Regions from separate parts of the Homo sapiens genome. Here region 1 is linked to region 2. Evidence: fine-mapped expression QTL. A gene starts in region 2. The other region holds a variant in brackets. All regions are shown on one strand. Distances are between the middles of the regions. Region 1 holds the start of PRKG2-AS1 (PRKG2 antisense RNA 1). Region 2 holds the start of PRKG2 (protein kinase cGMP-dependent 2).

Evidence for each region. PIP is the estimated chance that this variant, and not a neighbour inherited with it, causes the effect. A credible set is the group of variants that fine-mapping cannot tell apart.
Region 1: its variant is the best candidate, but not a certain one, in a credible set for the expression of PRKG2 in whole blood (TOPMed, PIP 0.82).

What each region holds. Positions count from the first base shown.
Region 1 is chr4:81,161,769-81,167,154 of GRCh38, forward strand. All of the region lies in intron 6 of PRKG2 (protein kinase cGMP-dependent 2), which reads right to left. PRKG2-AS1 (PRKG2 antisense RNA 1) reads left to right here and starts at 3,172. Exons shown (of 5, transcript NR_125908.1): 1 at 3,172-3,230. RefSeq lists an enhancer at 2,343-3,542. The variant G/A (reference allele first, on the strand shown) is at 2,707.
Region 2 is chr4:81,212,857-81,218,242 of GRCh38, forward strand. It overlaps PRKG2 (protein kinase cGMP-dependent 2), which reads right to left and starts at 2,366. Exons shown (of 19, transcript NM_006259.3): 1 at 2,080-2,366. LOC124900726 (a long non-coding RNA gene) reads left to right here and starts at 2,030. Exons shown (of 2, transcript XR_007058162.1): 1 at 2,030-2,102; 2 at 2,709-3,368. RefSeq lists enhancers at 1,398-1,898, 1,899-2,399.

The sequences.
Region 1 (5,386 bases), 51 kb before region 2:
AAATAATTCTATGCTCATGCAACTATATTCAATAGTTCATTCACCTAGCCAATTAATGATAATCTATTTTAAAGTCCCAAACTTTAAGCATACCATTAAAGTCCCTTTTGCCATGTAATATAACATATTCATACATTCCAGGGATTAGAATCTGGATATCTGGAAGGGGGGGTGGGGCAGGGGACCATTCTGCCTACCACAATAAGCCAATGAAAGGCAATGTTGCCTGAAATAGTAGGAGCATCTAAAATATAGTAAATGCACAATTAATTGTTGCCATGCTAAGAAGGAGGATGATAATGATTTGCTCAGCTGTTTCCTACATCTTCTGGACCTCTGTTTCATTTTCTGTAAAATTAAGATTATATTTACTACTACACCTAATGTTGTTTGAGGACTAGTTAAGACGGTGTATCTAAAGTACCTGATGGAATGTTTAGTGCACACCAGGTACCCGGTGACTGTTAATCTTACGAAAGAGGCTGTAAGCTGGTCACGAAAGTCTTCCAGAGGAATATATGATTGTCCAGGTAAGTTACACTTGCCAGCCTTCCTGCTGTTAGCTATGGCCATGTGATGAACTTTTATCTAAAATAATCTGAGTGGAAGTGATCTGTGACAATTCCACACCAAGCCCATGCATGCTTTCATGCATGTGTCTTTATACTTTTTCCCCAATTATAATGGCATGGCCCACACAAACCTGGAAAACCACATGTTGAAAATGGCAGAGTAGACATCAGCTTGGATTCCCAAATGACTGTGTGGAGCCAATTGGGACTATCTTTCCTGGACAGTTATGTTAACGAGTGACAAACTTCTGTTTTATTTAAGCAATGATATTTGGCGTGTCTTTGCCTCATAGTTTGCTTACTCAAACCCTTCATCCCTTCCCAATTTTAGCTTTATCACAAACCTTGACTATATGCAGTGTGATTTTGCAGTGGAGATGACTATGACCCTTATAGGATGATCCTGATCCCCCACACAGTCCAGCTGTCTTCACCACATAGCTAACATTCAATGTTCTTTGCTATAGCTGCGGGGATTGTGTTCGAAGTTCCTATTTCAGACAGTCTGCTCTTCAAGCTCTCCTGTTCCCATCACAATTTCAGTCCTCATTACCCACATGGAGCAGAAGAAACACAGAGAATTTCTGAAGTGCTGTTAGGCTGTTCTTCAGTTATTATGAAGCCTTTGATGTGTGCAGAGGTGTGGCTTTAATTCCTAACAACCGAATAACTTCAAAGGGGGAAAAGCTTGAAAGGGGATACTGAGGAAGACCTTTGTTATTTTTTAAGGGACAACCTTCCTAGTGGTATTTTTCTCCACGGATGATTCTTTGTCACCCAAAACCATGGGAGGAAGATAAATAATACCTCCCAGTGTGTTGACAGTAACTTCATAGATCAGAAAAGGCTGTGGAAATAGGTCAGACCAAAAATATATAGTGGTAAGTACTGACTGTGATGCTAGACTGCCCAGTGTTTGCCAACTGGGGAGTGCAACCAGTCAAGCCAGGGTGGTCACTGAGACCAAAAAGAGAAATGCAAATAGTGTGGTTATTGTCCTTGTGGTTACATTGCAAAGGTGTCCCTTAGAGGACCAAGAAGCCATAGACCCTATCCTGCAGAGCAATGGTTTTCAAGCATGTTTTAATTCTGACCAACAGTAAGAAATACATTCTGCATGTACTCCCAATACACACACAAGAGCAGGTACACATATTTATACAAAATTGAAACATTTTTCAAAATAATACTTATACTTACTATTCTGATTTTTTAAATGTTCCTCTAAATTGGTTTCATAACCTGGTAATGAGTTGTAGCCCATTTTTACTGTAAACAAAATGTTCATTCTGTGATAATCTAGCAAAATGCTAGAGCCTGAGTACCTGTAAATACAATATATAAAACCAGAAGGAAATTCCAAAGTGACAGAGGACAAAGAAAATGAAGGAAGGCAATGACTTCCTTAGAGCCTTTAATTTGCAGCTACAAATCTTCTTTATAAGTATCTTGCAAAAAGCAAATGAAATCCTCATTAAAAAGAAGTATTGGAAGTACTGATGATATACAACCAGATGTATAGTACACACACACACACACACACACACACACACACACACACACCTCTGTGCATTATGTGACTATGTACCAAGTGTGTCGGTTAAAAAATTGTTTACAGTTAGTTATTTATGTTGTTACTAGTTAATCTTTGTTTTCCAAGTACAAGAGTTTAGAACACCTCAGAAGTTTTAAGGCAAGCACACCTGGATCAGGTGGGCCCAGTCAGCCATTCGGGCATGTAGCACCTGATTGGTTATTTTCAAAGAACCAGATACTACAAAATGAAAAACAACAGAAGTTATTTCTATTTGGGTGAGCCAATCATATAGAATTCTATGATTTAAATGTTGAAAGAGCTCATAGAGATATGGCCCACCACTCCATTATTTTGTAGATGAAGAGATGATATGCTAAAGCCTACCACAATTCATTGACAGCTGGTAGAGTGACAGAGGCAGAACCACAAGCCCTAATCTCCAGACTTTGGACTAGTGAACTTTGTACAACACCTGGCTGCCCCACCTTTAGCTCAATGGTTCATAAACTGTAGCGAAATCTACAATTATTTCAACTTTCTTATGGCTCTGGATTTAACCGTTAGGATGACAGGAAAAAAAAAAATCCTGGTTTATGC[G/A]AGTGTTGGTAAGGACTACAAGAAAGACTAGACTTGAAAAAAGTGATTAAAATGGAAAATTCCCAAAGAAAGAGGCAGACGGTTGCAAACTCTAAACATTCATAACTAAACCAGTGCTTCTTAGACTTTAATAAGCATAAAAATCCCACCATTAGAGTGTTAGGTGTGGATCTGGGGGCCCCAACTTGAGTTTCCGATTCAGTAAGTGTGGGGTGGTGCCTGGGAATATGCCTTCTCATCGGCACCACAGGCAATCTGACTAAGGGCAAAGGTGCTCCACACTACACCCTCATCCCAGCCTCAAACACCTCAGCTTTGTGAAAGATGGCAGGTTAGAGTCACAGTGCAAAAGGCCACTGGATCAAATACCAAAGCACTGTGACTAACAGGTGACTTTATGATGAATCACAATGTTTGTAGTTCAGGAGGATGTCACAGTCAAATCTCATGCTTAGTGGATTCATCACCATGTGTGGGGGCAGAAACTACTTCCACTCTTACCTTCCATACTGCATAACTGCCAGGTACGTAAGTCATATTATTATTTTCATTGTCGTTAATCTGTACACTCCGTTCTGAATCTATATCATGCTTTACAGTTCTCATTAGTTAACTCTTAATGAACTCTAGTATGTTGGTGTTATTCCCACCCTCGTTTTCTTATCAGAACACAAGAAGAGGCTTAAAGGCAATGGCTGCCTCTATAAATGTTCTGAGTGATTTAAGCTAAAGCAAGAAATGCCATTGGAACATTGCACAATCAGGGCCATTTGTTCTAGGAGTTCAACCGTCTAAGTTTCAACAAATACATCAGATCAATTACTTGGTGATGGGAAATTCTGATTCTCCCTTCCTTACCCCCTGCTACATGCAAAACTCCCAAATCAACTCCTAAACTGCATGACAGATTTAGCCTGTTTTTTTCAAAGATTATGGGGACAGTTTGTGGGACAGCTGGTCCTAGAACTCTGGACACTGTCAAAAATGATGCAGTAGTGATTGGCTGTTGTCAGGACCAAGTTGATGGGTCATTAGTCCAAGCTATGCTGGTAAATCACATGCATTTCTTAGCGCTAAATAGATCCCATTACTCTCGTTAATCACTTTCACATTTGAGAATTTTCACACATCACAGAGACACATTTGTTTGCCAGGTATGAATAAAGAGTCCTTTATAAACTGTGCTGCTGTCTGCAAATGCTGAGATACAGCAAATCCTTTCCAGGGTGTTTGAAAAGATGAGTTTTTCAAATTTGAATTGTGTGTTAATTATTACTGGATTTGAGCCCCCATCTATATATTCTGTAGCAATTGCCTGTGGCTGCTATAAATACGTCTAATTTACCATTTATTTTTAATGATACTAAATTTTCATATTTGCTGTCAACATAGAAATCCCCTCTGGTGAATCTACTCTATTAGTATTATATTAAAAACAGATTTCCTTGGTTAACAAAAAAAACTAGGGCCTCTCCAGCTTTAAGTAAAAAAAAAAACACCCTTAGAAATTAGGATGAATTATTAATTTGTAACATCTGTGACTGGGTTATGTTACAATGGGAGACTCTCCAGAGATGCAGGCTAAGCAATCTTCTTGAAAATGACTTCATATCTGAACCCCCTGGGGCCACACGGCCAGGCACTGTGTCATCATGGTCTGTCCTTGATAAACTGCTGGATGGGTTGCATGAATTGTAAATGGAAACACTGCTGGTGTCACTTACACTTAAGGATAAAATGGTCCCTACTCCCTGCTTGACAGATATTAGTTACATTGTATATTGTGATTGACAGAGGCATGAATCTGTCAACAATCAGCCTTGCAGGGTTTTGGGGGTTTTTTTTCCTCCCACTGAGAACAGCTTTATAAAAGCTTAAATTCTATATGTGACTCCTTTACTATTCCTTACCTCCTTTAAATTCCATAAAGCCATCTGGGTTTCAATGAAATTGACCCCCCAAAAAGTTAAAGAACGTATTTGCTTTGAATTTTAATTCTCTGAAATCTGAAGACGTTTTCACAAAATGCATATCGTTAGAATCCAAGGTACATGTCGTAAAAGCATTATTCATGAAAAGACTTGACTCGTCTTGGACTAGAACCAACCATCTGGGTGATGCCTAAAATGAGTTTTTGAACACATTCCAATATGCCGTTTCCCCCTAGATGTTAAAATAGATAAAGTGCTTCTTAAATACAGTTTTTAAAATGTGTTTTTTGTGGCCTAGAGTGTTCAAGTAGAAAGTGTTTCACAGCCTGACTCAGAGGCTTGCCACCAAAAGGACCAACATACCCTTTCTCTGCTCCATTTCTTAATTATACATCAGTGACTCCTTTATACTATGAAAACTCTGTAGGGGATTGTGATGTTAATTGTAGAAAATCAAATGCTTCTTGAGTAAGGCAGGTTTGTTTTATAAGATATACTAAAAAGATTAAAATATGTAAATCAAATTTCACTTTACACATGCAAATCCAATTTCCTTTTATACATCTGAAGAGTTTAAACCTTTCTCCACCCCTTAACACAGCATGAGTTGGCTTAAGATTTTTCACCATAGAAAAAGGCTCTTGGTCTCTGTAGACTGGTGCTCTGACATCTTTTTATTTATTTATGGTGTTAATAATATAAGTACATTCTAATATCTTCTAATGAAATTTATTTTTTACTTCAAAATT
Region 2 (5,386 bases):
AAGAGATTAATATTAGAAGAGGGTGAGTAGGAGGAACACTGCAGGATAGCATCTCTAATGTAGTAATTAAATGGATGTGCATGGGAGGGCAATCAAAATGATTTCAATGTTTTGATCTTAGGAGGCTTGAAGGAAAGTATTACTATCTACTCTTCATTCATTCAGTCATTCAAAAAGAACACATAGGGCACCGTGTATGGGCTAGACACTGTGGCACTGACAGAAGTCAGGAGAATGAGCATGCTTTGAAAAGACAGTAATGAGTCTGGATTTACATATATTGAGTTTGAGATGCTTGTGGGTCATCATGATGCAAATGTCTAGCAGGTAGAAGCAAAAAAGAAAACTCAAGGGAAGAGATTGCTCCATAGAAGACTTGAAGTACCATTTGTAGATGAGATCACTAAGGGAGGTAAGAAAGGAATGTCTCTATTGTTACCTATGAACATATAGGTAATATCTGTGGATATTATTTGTGGGAGAAGAGGAGGAGAAGCAAACCACAAAGGAGAAGGAACACGTGTACCAATAAGAGATTTAGGAGAAGCATCAGAAAGGCCATGCAGATAAGATCCTTAAGAGGTGAGCAGGCTGTACCTCACATCCCACAGGCCTGTCACAGCAAATGAGATCAGAGAGAAAAGTGCTGAATCTGATTTGTCAAAGAGTGGGGATAGACACTCAACTACAAGGGACCATGGAAAGAGCTGACACTAAGAGTAGAGCCTGCAAGACGATATCATGATTCATGTGAGGGATTTTTAAAATAATGAAAATTTGAAAATGTCTGTAGCTCCAGGATAATGAAGCACAGGAGATATGAAAAACGAAAACATGGGAGAAGAAGAGATAATTCATAGGAAAAATAGCCTAGAGGAAGCAAGACAATAAGGGATCACAGGACTTGGGCAACAGCCAGGCAACATATGCCTTCACTGTGAGGTGAATTCTCATTAGCCTCACTTGTAATGACTTCATAGAACTGGAGTTAAGGATTTCACGTAAAAGAGAAAGATCCCTGGGCATCATCTTTTCAGGTCGTTTATTCTTAGTCATACAGCGTTCCAACGGAGAGGATGCACTCTAATTCTCCATAGAGAATTCTCTACCATATTAGCTCATACCCTCCTGTGCAAAACTAAACAGGAGTACTGAAAACAGCTAGTGTATGTTATGTGGGATGATCGCCTTCTTCATGAGTTAAATAGAAACTTGCAAAGAAAAGAGACAATTTCTAAGAAACTCTAAATATGGGGGTGTGGTGGGGTGGGGGCAGGTGTATGTTGCTCTCTTCCTTAAAAAAAAAAAAAAAAAGAAGGAGAAGAAGAAGAAGGAAAAAGCCCCTGGGAACTTGGGGAACAAGATGAAGATCAGGAAATCAAGGCATTTGTCCCAGCGTCACCCTTCCTACCTACTAATTCTGCATGCGTTGCTTTTATTGTCAGCTCTGGCCTCAGCTGCTTCGTAGTTGCACCGTAGTTCTTCTCAGAACTGAACCTATTTCTTTTTTTCTCATCCCCAAAGTGGCTGGTTTCTGGGCTTTGTTTGCTCTTGTTTCTTCATCACCGAGAAATACAGAAATATGAAAGCGCCTCACGGTGCCCAGAGTGACAAAAGGACACCCACACAAGTTTACCAGGACTCCTAAAAGTCCTTGCCTGAGGACTGTCCCCTAGCAACTACCCAGAGCTCGACGAAGCAAAGCCGGGAGCGCAAGCCCTGACAGCACCGCCAAGCCCCTAGCTCGGAGCAACAGCCTCCACCGCTTCTCCTCGCTAAACCTAGAGAACCCTGAGGACTCCCCACTGGGGCTGAGCCCCTCCCGCCCTCAACAGAACCTCTAAACACAAGTAGCCTTTCCCTGCCTCCAGGAGCTCACGAAACGCTGCCACACCGAGCGAATGCAACGCGTACACACGTCCACACTCGAACAGCACAAGCAAGAGACCGGCTGGGTGTGGAATAGAGGCGCACATCGCGCAACGCATTCACAGCATGCACACGCGCGCACCCCGACCCCGTCCCTCCCCGCGCGCCCTCACACCCCGGCGCCCAAGACCCCCGGCCCACGAACCTCACCAGACAGCCGGGTAACTTTCCAGGTGCGCAGCTTGTCACCTCGGCGCGGCCGCCCCTGCGTCTCAGCGTCCTCTCCCACGCCGCCCTCCCCAGCCGCCTGCGGCGCCGGAGCCCAGCGCAGGTCAGCTCAGCCAGCCCCGCCGTGCACACGGTGCGCAGCGTGGGCCCGGGGCTGCCGGCTCAGTCGCTCCGGCTACGTGTGAGCCGGGGGCGCGGGTTAGCGCGATGCGGGCAGGAGCTGCGGCGGCGTCGGTGCTGCCGCCTGGCTCCGCGGCGGGGGCCGGTGCAGAGGAGACACGCAGGGAGGGAGGGAAGAGAGGAGGGAAGGAGGAGGGAGGGGGTCAGCCGGGGCTACTGCCTGGATAGTTGGGCGCCGGCTTCCCTAAAGGTGGGGTCACCCGCGCCCGCACGCACACTAGCCCGAACCTTTACTCCCGACACAGCCGCAGTCTGCACTTTATACCCCATACCCTCCATAGTGAGGCAACTTAAGTAGGGCGATAACATCGTGGTTGTAAGCATTTTTGTTCATGTTATTATTTCTATTTCAAGTGTGTGGGACGAGGGGAGAGGAAAGTTCAGGGAGGTGTTCATTTTTTCCTTCCCCTCCCTTTCCTCCATCCTTCCAGTCTGTTTTCACTGCAGGCTCTCTCCACTTCGCCTTCCCTCCCAGAGCTCAAACAGGCGCACGTACCCTGGACATGCCCTCCTCTGTCACACCAATGCCTTTCTACGAAGACATGTGACCCCGAAGCAGCTCGTCGACGCGCCCCTCCCGGACTCTGGGGCCATAACTTACATCTAGTTTGCCAGTTCACGTGATGCTGGGGGCAGGGGTTGAATCGAGTTTCGAGGGACAGAGATTATACCTTCCGAATCTGCAGGTCTTTGGGAAGGGAGCTTTCTTGATCACCCAAGAAGATAATGCTCTCTCGTCACCTTTTGAGTACATTTTTTTTTCCTGAAGGGTGCAATATGGTTTCCTAAATATATATGTACACCCCACCGCATTATTTGCTGTGCTCTGGAGTTGTGAGATCTCCATGTGGCTTTTTCCCTTTCCTTCTGCCCCCAGAGGAATTTCACCAGCAAATTCACGGAGGACAAGGGCAGTTTCTGTGTTGAGAGATGGAAAGTATAGTGAGGGTCTATTCCTCACTGTGCATCTAGAGAATGTTACAACCAACTCTCTTGGGTTTTTAAACCACATGGTGGCAGTGGGGCTCATGTAACATTTGTATACACTGTTACATACATAAACTTATATTAAAAATGAGGCCCATGTAAAATATGTTGAATGAGACCATTAAGTTTCAGAGGAGGAGGAATATAGTCCTGTTTGTTTTTGTGCTAACTGGAGGAAAATCGCGAAAGTACACAAAGTACCTTTTCATGAAGCTATCCCAGAGTCTGTACATTTTATAAAGACCTCAAAAAAAAAAAAATTAGAGGAGAAAGGAGTGAGGAAGAATTCCACAAGAAAAGAGAAAATAAGTAATTGTATGTCACTGTAATAATGGACTTTTAAGTTGATGGGCTGAATTTTTATTAGCGATTTAATGACAAAAAGGAGAAAAACAGATTTTCAAAGTCTTCACTTTAAAAAAAAATTTCAGATTCAGGGGTACAAGTGCAGTCGCATTACACGGACATAACACATAGTGGTGAGGTCTGGGCTTTTAGCGCACCTATTACCCTAATAATGTGCACTGTACCTAATAAGTTGTAATTCCTACCTCACCCACCTCCCACCCTCCCACCTATTGGAGTCCCCAGTGTCTGTTATTCCATTCTGGATACTCATGCCTGCCCATTGTTTAGCTGCCACTTATAAGAGATTCTGCAGTTTTTGACTTTGTTTCTGAGTAATTTCACTTAGGATAATGGCCTCTAGTTCCATCCATGTTGCTGCAAAAGATATGATTTCATTGTTTTTGTGGCTGGGTAGTATTCCATTGTGTGTGTGTGTGTGTGTGTGTGTGTGTGTGTGTGTGTGTAGTACCCCTGAATCAAAAAAAAATTTTCCCAGTTTTTCAGGTGATAGGTACACAGTGTATGTGTGTGTATACCACCATAGTGTGTGTGTATATATTTTGTATATATATATATATATATATATGTGTATATATATAATATAAAACCACATTTATAAATCCAATCACCCCTTAATGGACACGTAGGTTGACTCCATGATTTTGCTATTGTGAATAATGCTGCAAAGTCCTTACATTTCATTGAGTCCTGGGCTTTTTTAAACAATGGGTTGCTAATTAATGGATTATAAAATTGATGTACTGGGTCAAAGCCAGCATTTTTAAAATGATACCAAATAGAATAAAAAATAGCAGAGTATGCACGCACACTGGGTCAACTGGGTCATATGTACTTTCTTACCGTTCATTGAGGTAAAAGCTTGAAAGCTGTCGATGCAGTGCAGGCTGTTGCCCAGGGTCACCCAGCTAGGAAGAGTTTGAGGGGGAACCTAAGTTCCCTCCCAGCAATCCTATGCTCTGTCAAATCTACAACTCTACCATGCTGAACAAGGAAACGGAGGAAGAGAAGGAAAGTGACCACTTTTTGAGCTTTTAATTCAGTCTTTCAACAAATGTGCTTTCAGCAGCTCCTGCATCTCAGGCCCAGTGCTAAATACTTAGAATTCAATGGTGAACAAAATTAACTTGTGATCTCTGCCAACTTAGAGTGTACAATCCAGTGAGAGAAACAGACATTAAATAAGTAAACACAAAAGTAAGCATATGTGGGAGAAATACTGTGAAGGAAAATGAGAGAAAAAAATATGGGGTTATAATTTAGATGTGGGAGGCTGCAATTAATAATTAACCCAATTTAGAATGGCTTAAATTATAAGGAAACTTACTGTTTCACAAGGCAAGAAGTTCCAAGGTCAGGAGGCTCTAGTTGGTGAATTCAGGAACACAGTTGTGTCTGGGAAGGCCCTGGCCTGTTCCCGTTATTCCCCCTGCCATTCCCAGTATGGCAGCTTTGTCCCCTGGGGCTGCTCCACCCATGGCCCCAGGATGACTGGAACAACTCCATTTATTATGGGCAATCCCAACAGTGCCCAAAGGTCACAGAGATTCTCTTTTCCAGAGTCGGGAAATCGTTCTTGGAAGCTTCCAGGAGACTTCTCACCTGTCATTAATCCAAACTAAGCATGTGCTCACACCTAAATGCTGGAGGTGGAGGGGAGAATCACCATTCCCAGCCTCTTAGGCTCTGCAGGACTGGTTCCTAACTCTTCCCGATTGCATTCTTTGAGAAGTGCATACCCGAATAAAAAGGAGAG